Linked DNA regions of Homo sapiens: region 2 is linked to region 1. The links come from fine-mapping of genetic effects on gene expression. A gene starts in region 1. The other region holds a variant in brackets. All regions are shown on one strand. Distances are between the middles of the regions.

Evidence for each region. PIP is the estimated chance that this variant, and not a neighbour inherited with it, causes the effect.
Region 2: its variant is fine-mapped to the expression of DRD4 in prostate (GTEx, PIP above 0.99).

What each region holds. Positions count from the first base shown.
Region 1 is chr11:634,939-640,303 of GRCh38, reverse strand. It overlaps DRD4 (dopamine receptor D4), which reads right to left and starts at 3,035. Exons shown (of 4, transcript NM_000797.4): 1 at 2,715-3,035; 2 at 759-871; 3 at 1-656. The coding sequence starts at 2,999. RefSeq lists enhancers at 1-111, 477-1,010, 1,011-1,545, 1,546-2,079, 2,080-2,614 and 3 more.
Region 2 is chr11:682,353-687,717 of GRCh38, reverse strand. DEAF1 (DEAF1 transcription factor) reads left to right here. Exons shown (of 12, transcript NM_021008.4): 5 at 721-860; 6 at 2,755-2,820. Among named protein-coding and RNA genes, the nearest start is that of DEAF1, 10 kb to the left of the region's middle. RefSeq lists enhancers at 131-631, 632-1,132. The variant C/G (reference allele first, on the strand shown) is at 2,077.

The DNA of each region.
Region 1 (5,365 bases):
CCACCACCGGCAGGACCCTCATGGCCTTGCGCTCCCGGCCGGTGATCTTGGCACGCCGCCTCCTGCGGGTCTGCGGTGGAGTCTGGGGTGGGAGCGCGGCGGCTCTGACGGCGTCGGGGGGAGCACAGTTGGAGCCGCAGGGGTCCGGGGGGAGGCCGGGCGCGGGGGGCGCACAGTCGGGGCCGCAGGGGTCCTGGGGGAGGCTGGGCGCGGCGGGCGCACAGTCGGGGCCGCAGGGACCCCGGGGAAGGCCGGGCGCGGGGGGCGCACAGTCGGGGCCGCAGGGGTCCTGGGGGAGGCGGGGCGCGGGTGGCGTGGGGGAAGGCGGGCCAGGGCCGCTGGGTCGGCGGGGCGCGCGGCCGTGCAGCTTGGCGCGACGTGCCACCTCCCAGCGCTGCAGGCCGCGGAACGTGGCCCAGTAGAGCAGCAGCATGAGCGGGCAGGGTAGGAAGAAGGAGCACACGGACGAGTAGACCACGTAGTCGCGGTCCTCCAGGCGGCACACGGCGGGGTCGCGGCCGCGCACGTCGTTGAGGCCGCACAGTACGGGCGCCGCCACCGCCGCGGACAGCAGCCACGTGGCGCCGATGAGCAGCAGCTGCCGGCGGCTCCCACCCTGCCGGTTGTAGCGCAGCGGCACGGCCACGGCCACGAACCTGCGGGGAGCGCCGAGGGGGCGCCGGACAGCGCACAGGCCGCGGTGAGGGCGGCGGGCGGGGCGCGGGGGCGCCGGGGCGCGGGCGGGGAGGGCGGCGCACCTGTCCACGCTGATGGCGCACAGGTTGAAGATGGAGGCGGTGCACAGCATGACGTCCATGGCCATGAGGGCGTCGCACAGGCGGGGGCTCAGCAGCCACGCGCCACCCTGGACCTGCGCGGCGACACCACAGGCCCTGAGGTTTCCCAGCCACCGCGGGCCCTTGTGACCCGCCCCCACTCTTATGGGTAGTTCCAGGGCTGAATACGGAGAAGGGGGCCCGGCTGTGAGCCAGAGGCCAGAGGACCGGGCAGGGAAACACCCCTTCCCCACGCAGATCTCCCTTTGTTTTGAGTTAGGGTCTCGCTGTGTCACCGCGGCTGGAGTGCTGTGGCTCCATCATGGCTCACTGTAGCCTGGAATTCCTGAGCTCAAGCGATCCTCCCACCTCAGTCTCCAGAGTAGCTGGGATTACAGCCGCGCGCCACCACCCCCGGCTGATTTGTTTTTCTTTTTGTTTTTTGAGACGGAGTTTCGCTCTTGTTGCCCAGGCTGGAGTGCAGTGGTGAGATCTCAACTCACTGCAACCTCCGCCTCCCAGGTTTAAGCGATTCTGCCGCCTCAGCTCCCCCGAATAGCTGGGACAACAGCCGCAGCCACCACCCCCGGCTGATATTTTAAAATTTTTTGTAGAGACCAGGCCTGGTATGTTTCCCAGGCTGGTCTCAAACTATCCTCCTGCCTTTGCCTCCCAAAGTCCTGGGATTACAGGCGTGAATCACGGCTTCTGGCCTTGGTCTCCCTTTTGTTACAAACATGAGAACGGCCTGGGGAATTCCCTGGGGGCGGGCCTGATATCATCGGGCTCAAAGGGAGCCCCTCCCCAGCCTGGGGTAGGCAGGGTCCCCGCTGGGCCTAGAAGCGAAGCTGGCTGCTCTGTTGGCTAAGTTCTCTGTGGGAGACTCGGGCACGTTAATTCATTTCTGTTTCTTCATCTGTAAGACAAGGGTGATGATAGTATCCACATCATAATTGTCTTGAAGATAAATTATAATTAAAAATATGAAGACCGTGCCCAGTGCCCAGCGTAGGACTCCACGTGGAGTGACTCTCTCCAAGGGCAAAGGAGCAGGCAGCCCCTCTAATCCTTCCCGCCGATTTGGGGAGATTAGGAGCTTAAACGTCGTCACTGTGACGTCTGCGGCTCGAAAGGAGCACAGGTCACGCGTGTCCCGTGCTGCTGGTCTCTGCCCCAGCCGCCTGGATTCACTGTGTCCATCAAGGGGAAACCTCGAGTCCCCCTCCCCCACAGTCGGGGACACCGCGTCTCCAGCTCAGCCCTAAGCTGCTTTTCTCTGGCCGCAGAGGGGCTGGCACCAAGGCCGACCCACTCGAGGGCCAGACCTGGTGTGGAGTGTGGGCTCCATCCCCCAATTCCCCCTCAGGCTTCCCCCCAGGGTTCTCAGCAGGGGCCTGGTCCCCACACACCCTCCCCTCCCCTGGGTTTTGTCCAGCCCAGGTCTCCCCTGCGAGCTGTGAGCCTCCTTCTGGGGGTGTGCCAGCATCTGCACTAGGTGTGTGTGGTGGGCAGTGGCTGTGGCAGTGTGTGTGTGTGTGTGTCCCACGGCAGCCAGGGGGCTGAGCCTGCATCTGCCTGTCTGTCCAGCTGGCTGCCCTGGAGGTGAAATCCAGCTACGGAGGGGACTGGGCTTGACAAAGTCGCCTGTTTCCGGGGTCCCTGGATAGAAGGACGGGCATCTCCTGGATAACAGACGCCAAGACAGACGGGGAAGGAGAAGAGGAACGAGGGTCGGGGGACAGACAGCGCAGCGGGTGGAAGGTCGCGAGGTGGCGGCGGTGGGTGTATCGCCGAGGGACAAGGCGCAGCGCCCCTGCCGCCGCCCCAGCTGGAAGCTCCGCACCAGAAAGGGGCCGGGTCGCGCCGGGTCCTCCGTAGGGACAGGGACGGGGAACCGAGGAGCAGGTGAGGATGCTCGTGCGGCCGGACGCGGCTCACCTCGGAGTAGACGAAGAGCGGCAGCACCAGGAGAGCGAGGAGGAGGTCGGCGGCCGCCAGGCTCACGATGAAGGAGTTGGTGGGCGTCTGCAGGGCGCGCTCGGTGGCCACGCTCACGCACACGAGCGAGTTCCCCGCGAGCACCGCGCCGATGAGCAGCACGCCCCCCACCAGCGCCGCCGCGCCCTGCCCAGCCAGCCCCGCAGATGCCCCCGCAGATGCCCCCGCGGCCGGCCCGCGCCCAGCCAGCAGCCCGTCCGCGTCCGCGGTGCTGCGGTTCCCCATGGCGCGCCCGGGCGGGCGCTGAGCACCGCGGACAACGCCGGGTCGCAAGCCGGGGAGTCCCTCCCCTCGGGCACGCCCCGGCCGGACCCTGGTCCCGCCCCCGACCCGCCCCGGCTCAGGGGGGCCCCCGCGGCGCTCCACCGTGAGCCCAGTATTTGCTCATCTTGGAATTTTGCGCAGGGAGAGACGGGCACGTGGACGAATGCGGCGGCCCAAAGAGACGGGAATGAAGCGAGGTGGTGGCCACGGGCAGGCCAGCATCGCCCGGCGCCGCGCGGGGTCCGCGACCCGAGAAACCGACAAGGATGGAGGGGCGGCCAGACCAGGCCCTGAAGCGCGCGGGCATCGACGCCAGCGCCATCCTACCCGGCCCGTGCGTGCGTCCCGGCCCTCGGGCGCTCACCCTAGTCCACCTGGTATCTGGCAAAACCTCCCTCCCAGGCCCGTTCCGCCAGACGCAGAAAGACCTGAGCTCAGGCTCTGCCCGCCTCCCCCGCGGACTCGCCTCGACCTCGTGCGCACCCTCCACGCCCGCTCCCCCTGCCCCCGACTCCGCGCCCGACTCAACCGCCGACGCCTAGCTCATCCCGCCGCCCCCCCCCCGCAGCCTCTGGCCCTCAGCCCCCGCGACCACCACGGTCAGCCGCGGCCCCACCCGTTGCACAGTTGATCCTCGCGTGGCCGCCTCCGAAACTGGGCGGACAGCTGAGCGGTCGACCCCGCTCCCTCCTCCATTCCCTCCGGCCCAAGACCGTGAGCTAGGTAGGCGCCCCTCTGACCCTGGGCAGGGGGTCCCGGGACCGGACAGTAGGTTCGGCTCGCGAGGAGGCCAGGAGAAAGACACGACAGGCCGGGGTAGGTTCCAAACGTGCAGAAGAGAAAGTGCTTGCAAAGCGCAGCAGAGAATTCTATGGACTCTTCACCAAAGAGGGGTGACCTGTGACCTGAGAGGTATTTTCTGTAGTCTGTCACTAAGGGGCCTAGAAGACACTAAAAGGGGGCACCACTCTGTGGGACCCCAGGCGGCGCACATCCTGATGCTCTAGTCTGTTTCTGGGAGGCCTGGAGTGGAGGGGCTGTGCCAGGAATTGAGGCCCCTGACCTCGAAGGTCTGGAGGACACGGGCTAGACGGAGGCGCTGACAGGGCGTGCGTTAAAGGGAGAAATGAGGACTCTGAGAAGGAGCAGGCACCGTGAGCCTCACAGGACAAGGTCACGGGGCTGCGGGGGAAGGGCCTGCACCAGGGACAGGTGTGCACAGGCATCAGGTGCGGCCGCAGCCAGGCTCAGTCCCTCTTGTGCAGATCAGTCTGCTGCCCTTGTGAACCCTTGAGCAAAAGAAGTCACCACAGGAGAGACCACCAGGGACAGGTGTGCACAGGCATCAGGTGCGGCCGCAGCCAGGCTCAGTCCCTCTTGTGCAGATCAGTCTGCTGCCCTTGTGAACCCTTGAGCAAAAGAAGTCACCACAGGAGAGACTGGGACAGTGGAAGTTTCTTCTCTCCCAGGATGGAACCGGGGAGGGTGGCCCTGGGGTCTCCGGCTGGGCGCCAAACGGCGAGTCCAGCCCAGCCTCTGGTCGGCTTAGAGTTCCTTCAAGTAGCCCCCAAGATGTCTGCGACCACCAAGAGTGAAAACCAAGCTAGGCGGAGAAAGGATGTGTGCAGCACACATCTCTGACACACAGATCCAGAAACAATGGAAACAATGAGAAAAGACAGACAACCCCAATTTGTTTTTTTTTTTTTTTTTTTTTTGAGATGGAGTTTCACTCTTATCACCCAGGCTGGAGTGCAGCAGCACAATCTTGGCTCACTGCAACCTCCGTCTCCCGGGTTCAAGCGATTCTCCTGCCTCAGCCTTCTGAGTAGCTGGGATTATAGGCGCCCGCCACCACGCCCGGCTAATTTTTTTGTATTTTTAGTAGAGACACGGTTTCATCATATTGGCCAGGCTGGTCTCGAACTCCTGACCTCAGGTGATCCACCTGCCTCAGCTTCCTAAAGTGCTGGGATTACAGCTGTGAGCCACTGCCCCCAGCCTCCACTAAACTTCTGTTGTTTATCTGAAAATCAAATGTAACTGGATGTGATCACATCTTACTGCAATCATGGCTCACTGCAGCCTCAATCTCCTGGGCTCAAGTGATCCTCTGGCCTCAGCCTCCTGTACAACTGAGACTACAGATGCGTGGTGCCACACCCAGCTAATTTTCTTATTTTTTGTAGAGACGGGGTCTCGCCATGTTAGCCCAGCCGGTCTCAAACTCCTGGGCTCAAATGATCCTCCCACTTCAGCCTCTCAAAGTGCTGTGATTACAGGCATGAGCCATACAGCCAGCCTAAACAATTTTTAATGAGGACCTC
Region 2 (5,365 bases), 47 kb before region 1:
AGACTATCCTGGCTAACACGATGAAAACCCGTCTCTACTAAAAATACAAAAAATTAGTGGAGCGTGGTGGCAGGCGCCTGTAGTCCCATAGTCCCAGCTACTCGGGAGGCTGAGGCAGGAGAATGGCGTGAACCCAGGAGGCAGAGCTTGCAGTGAGCTGAGATCACGCCACTGCACTCCATCCTGGGCGACAGAGCGAGACTCCGTCTCAACAACAACGACAACAAAAAAACAAGACAAAAGGTGCAGGTGACACCCAGTTCCTGTGAACTGAGCTGAGGCCTGGGAGAGGCACGGGACAGGGCTGCGCCCAGGAACCATCTGGGGGTGAAAAGCCATCGTGACCCACGGGACAGGAGACAAGCGAGAAGAAGCAGGAGGGAGGCAGGGCTGGGACGTGTTCCTCAAGTTGCCAGGTTAGCTTGGGACTTGTAGATGAAGGCTCTGGAAGTGGGTACCAGAGGTGCTCAGTGTGGGACCTGGTTGAGCTTGCACTGCCTGTGGACAGCGGGTGGAGAGATCACGTAGGGGGTCAGAGGCACAGGCTGCAAAGGCAGACCCGTGGTGGACCTGTCAGGGCCAAGTATGTGGGTGGGTGAGATCACATGAGCCGCTGGGGCGCTGGTGCTGGTGGAGGGGTTGAGGAGGCGCCAGGAGGTAGGCAATGGCAGAGGTGACGTTCCCACCTGCCATCATCATGACTGCTGCCCTTCCTTGCAGGCGGCCGGGGACGGTGCATCAAGCAGGGGGAGAACTGGTACAGTCCCACCGAGTTTGAGGCCATGGCAGGAAGAGCCAGCAGTAAGGACTGGAAAAGAAGCATTCGCTACGCGGGCCGACCCTTGCAGTGCCTCATCCAGGTATCGTCCGTGACCTCACCTGTGCTCAGCACACAGTTCAGACGTGGGGCCCTCTGAGGCGGCCCAGCCAGAGGGAGGGCACAGACCACGGGGTCAGACAAATGGGGTTTGCAGCCTCCACCTGCTGTCTGTGTGGCCTTGGGCGAGTGATTTACCCTCTCATGTTTCAGTTTCCGGGTCTTTCACGTGGGGATGACGATGATCGTGACCCTGTGAGGATTGTTGGGAGAAGTGCATGAGGTCACAGCGCCTGGCACAGAATAGCTGCAGAAAGGGGGCGTGTCAAATACACAAAAAATGAAAACAGTAGAAGTTAAGATAATCGCTTCTGTTTGAATGCGTGTGACCCTTTCAAAGTCACCTAACTTCTCGTCAGTCTACTAAGAAAAGAGGACTTCTAATTCCTATTCCAGTTTAGCTCCTTGGGTGTTGTTAAGGAAGCAATTCCTGTAGAGACTTTTGCAAATCTTGAAAGGAAAGAGGTAGGTCCTGCCACCAATAATGGCATTGTGAAAAGGAGAAGGCTCTGGAAATTACTGTTTTTGTGGTTTTTTTTTTTTTTTTTTGAGACAGAGTCTCACCCTGTTGCCCAGGCTGGAGTGCAGTGGCTTGATCTTGGCTCACAGCAACCTCCACCTCCCAGGCTCAGAGGATTGTCCCACCTCAGCCTCCTGAGTAGCTGGGATTACAGGTGCCCGCCACCACACCTGGCTTTTTTTTTTTTTTTTTTAATTTTCAGTAGAGATGGGGTTTCACCATGTTGGCCAGGCTGGTCTTGAAGTCCTGACCTCAGGTGATCTGCCTGCCTCGGCCTCCCAAAGTGCTGGGATTACAGGTGTGAGCCACAATACCCGGCCTATTTTTTTTGTATTTTTTAATAGGGACAGGGTTTCACCACGCTGGCCAGGCTAGTCTCGAACTCCCGACCTCAAGTGAGCCACCTGCCTCGCCTCTCAAAGTGCTGGGATTACAGGCGTGAGCCACAATACCCGGCCTAATTTTTGTATTTTAATGGAGACCAACCATGTTGGTCAGGTTGGTCTTGAACTTCTGACCTTAAGTGAGCCACCCGCCTCGGCCTCCCAAAGTGCTGGGATTACATGTGTGAGCCACCACACCTGGCCTGGGCATTACCTGATTTCTCACAATTTTTTTTTTTTTTGAGGCAAAGGCCTCCCTCTGTTGCCCAGGCTGGAGTGCAGTGGTGTGATCTCAG[C/G]TCACTGTAACCTCTGCCTCCCGGGTTCAAGCGATCCTCCTGCCTGAGCCTCCCAGGTAGCTGGGACTATGGGCATGCGCCACCATGCCCAGCTAATTTTTGTATTTTTAGCAGACACGAGGTTTCACCATGTTGGCCAGGCTGGTCTCCAGCTCCTGAGCTCAGGTGGTCTGCCTGCGTCGGCCTCTCAAAGTCCTGGGATTACAGGCATGAGCCACCATGCCCGGCCCTGATTTTGCAGAATTTTTATCTTTATGAGGTTGGGCACGGTGGCTTACGCTTGTAATCCCAGCACTTCGGGAGGCCGAGGCGGGCAGATTGCTTGAGGCCAGGAGTTCGAGACCAGCCTGGTCAACATGGCAAAACCTGTCTCTACTAAAAATACAAAAATTAGCTGGGTGTGGTGGTGCAAACCTATAATCCCAGCTTCTTGGGAGGCCGAGGCATGAGAATTGCTTGCGCCGGGGAGGCAGAGGTTGCACTGAGCCGAGAACGTGCCACTGCACTCCAGCCTGGGCAACCCAACAAGACTCTGTCTCAAAAAAAAAAAAAAAAAAAAGAATTTTTATATTTATGAATGGTAGGTAAGTGGTAAAAGTGGTTGAAATCTTCTATTATTGAATGATTGACATTTAGGGGCTGACTTGCTAATGCATGGTGGTTCTTTTCACATCTCAGGATGGGATCTTAAACCCTCACGCTGCCTCTTGCACCTGTGCTGCCTGCTGCGACGACATGACCTTAGTAAGTGGCCAGCGTGTCTGGAACAGGATGACTTGGTGGGGCTGGGGGCGGCTGAGTGGGTCCCACAGCCCTTGGCCTCTCGGCTGTTTCCCTCCTGCCCTCTGCCTTGGAGAGAGACACTGTCCTCACTTCTCCTGGGTTGCTCTGTTCCCTCCTCCCTGATACGTCACAGTGAATCCTGATGTCTCGATGGGGAACACGTGGTTGGCCCCCAAGATGTTGCTCAAAGAACATTTGTGGAAACCTTAAATAATGAAAAGCGGTTATAATGTCACCGCCTTAACTCTAAAACTAAACATACACGCTTTTCCTTGTATGCATGCCATTTTATATTCCTCATTTTGTAACATGTCAGAAAAATGCTACTGTAAACTTATTCATGTGTAGAGCTTTTAACGCCTTTTTGACGTATTTCCTTATTCTAAATTCTTAACTGCTTCACAAAGACCCAAAATAATTTTTCTTTCTTTTTTTTTTTCTGAGACGAAGTCTCATTCTGTCGCCCACACTGGGGTGCAGTGGCGCGGTCTCGGCTCACTGCAACCTCCGCCTCCTGGATTCAAGCACTTCTCCTGCCTCAGCTTCCCGCGTAGCTGGGATTACAGGCATGTGCCACAATGCCCAGCTAATTTTTGTATTTTTAGTAGAGATGGGGTTTTGCCATGTTGGTCAGGCTGGTCTCAAACTCCTGACCACATGTGATCCGCCCGCCTCAGCCTCCCAAAGTGTTGAGATTACAGGCGTGAGCCACTGCACCTCAAAAAAAAAAAAAAAGAGCATGGAGAGACCTACCGTGTTCTTGGGGTGAAACACTAAACATCCTAGAATTGTGTAGTTGATATATAGATTTCATGTGATTCTAGTGGAAAAAACAATTTTGTGAACGTAAAATAATTTTGAAGTTGATTGGGAAAAGCCAGTCGGTGAGACTCTTAGAGACGCTGCAGGAGTAAAGGAGCCGGGAGGAGACGTCGGTCCCATTGGCAGTTGAGCCTGCAGGTAGATCATTTGCAGGGGCTCCAACACTGAAGTACTTAGATGTCAGTCTAGGAAATCATGTACAGGGTTTGTACGTGGAAGATACTAAAGAAAATGCTGAAGAGAGAGACCAGGGAAGATTGAAATACGTCAAAAGACGTCCTGCGCCCGTGGATTAGAAGACTCAGTAAAGATGCGACTTTTTCCCAAGTTGATTCGTAGGTTTAACACAATGACTATCAAAATCCCAGCAGGATTCTTTTTAGATGCAGACAAGCTGATTCTAAAATTTGCATAGAAAGGTAAAGGAAATAAAAAAGCCAAAACAGTTTTGAAACAAAAAAGCCAAAACAGTTTTGAAATAAAAGTTTAAAATGGGTGGAATCACATTGCGGGGTCTTAAGACTTACGGGCTCGTGACAGTAATCAAGATAGTGTGGCACTGGCAGAGGGAGAGACCCCACGATCTGGGTCAGACTAGAGTGTCATAGTAGACTCCAGCAAATGGCCTTGGAGTGACAGGACGTTCATCAGCAGAGACAAAGGATGACCTAAACTTCACACTTGGTACAAAAATGAATTCAAAATGGGTCATCGATCTAAAGTGAAAGGTGAAACTATAACATTTTTAGGAGAAAACACATTGGAAAATCTTCCTGACCTGGAGTTAGAACTAGGATTTCTTGGATTGGACTTCATCAAATTTTAGAACTTTTGGCTTCCGCTTGGGGAGTGGTGGTGTGATGAGCTCAGTGGACCAACTCTCCAGAGAAATAACTAGTGAAAATTGTGAAAAAATAACCCCTTAAGGTCTCCAGAAATTGTCCTAGGGGAGTACAGCAAATAAACATCCAAGAAAATGTAGTAAGTCTTGGAAAGGGCAGTGAGGATTGTGACGTTTGAGCTACGACCAGCTCCTTCCCTCCCTTTCTGCCCCCAGCTCCCTATGGTGGAGGCTCCATTGTGGGTGGTTGTGACCAAGAAAACGGTTCCCACTCCTTGCAGTTCCCGGTCAAGGGATATGGTATCTCACTGGGAGGGGCAGGCCACCAGCATTTCTCAACCCCTTCAGCTCTAAGTTGCAGTAAATTCCTGGGAAGTGTGACTGAAAATCTCTTCAGTCATCCCCACTCAGAGGGCAGAGGCTTTACCCAGGCATGGGAGGCCAAGCATACGGAGCCCCAATTTCCATCAACCCACATTGCCCATAGGGTGGGGTGTCCATGCAGTGAGAGGCTGCTGCCCCCCACACAGAACCCGGCTAATGCAACAGAATTCCCTCTGATAGACTCAGGCACTGTTCCTGCCTCTAGGTCTATAGTAGGGGCTCAGACATTCAGCCCAAAAGAGAGAGAGGCCGTAAGAACAGAGAGCTCCAAAGCCCCTCCCAAAGGAACTGACTTGATTTGAAACAGTATGGGGATGTTCAAGCCTAAAAGTGCCCTGGAAAAGAATGGACATTTTGATGGTAAGCAGTTAAGAGGAGGCCAGCAGTTCCATTAGAGCAAGAAACTAAACTGTAGGTCAGCAGGTTTACCAGAGAGGCGAGGAAAGCCACAGCGAAGAA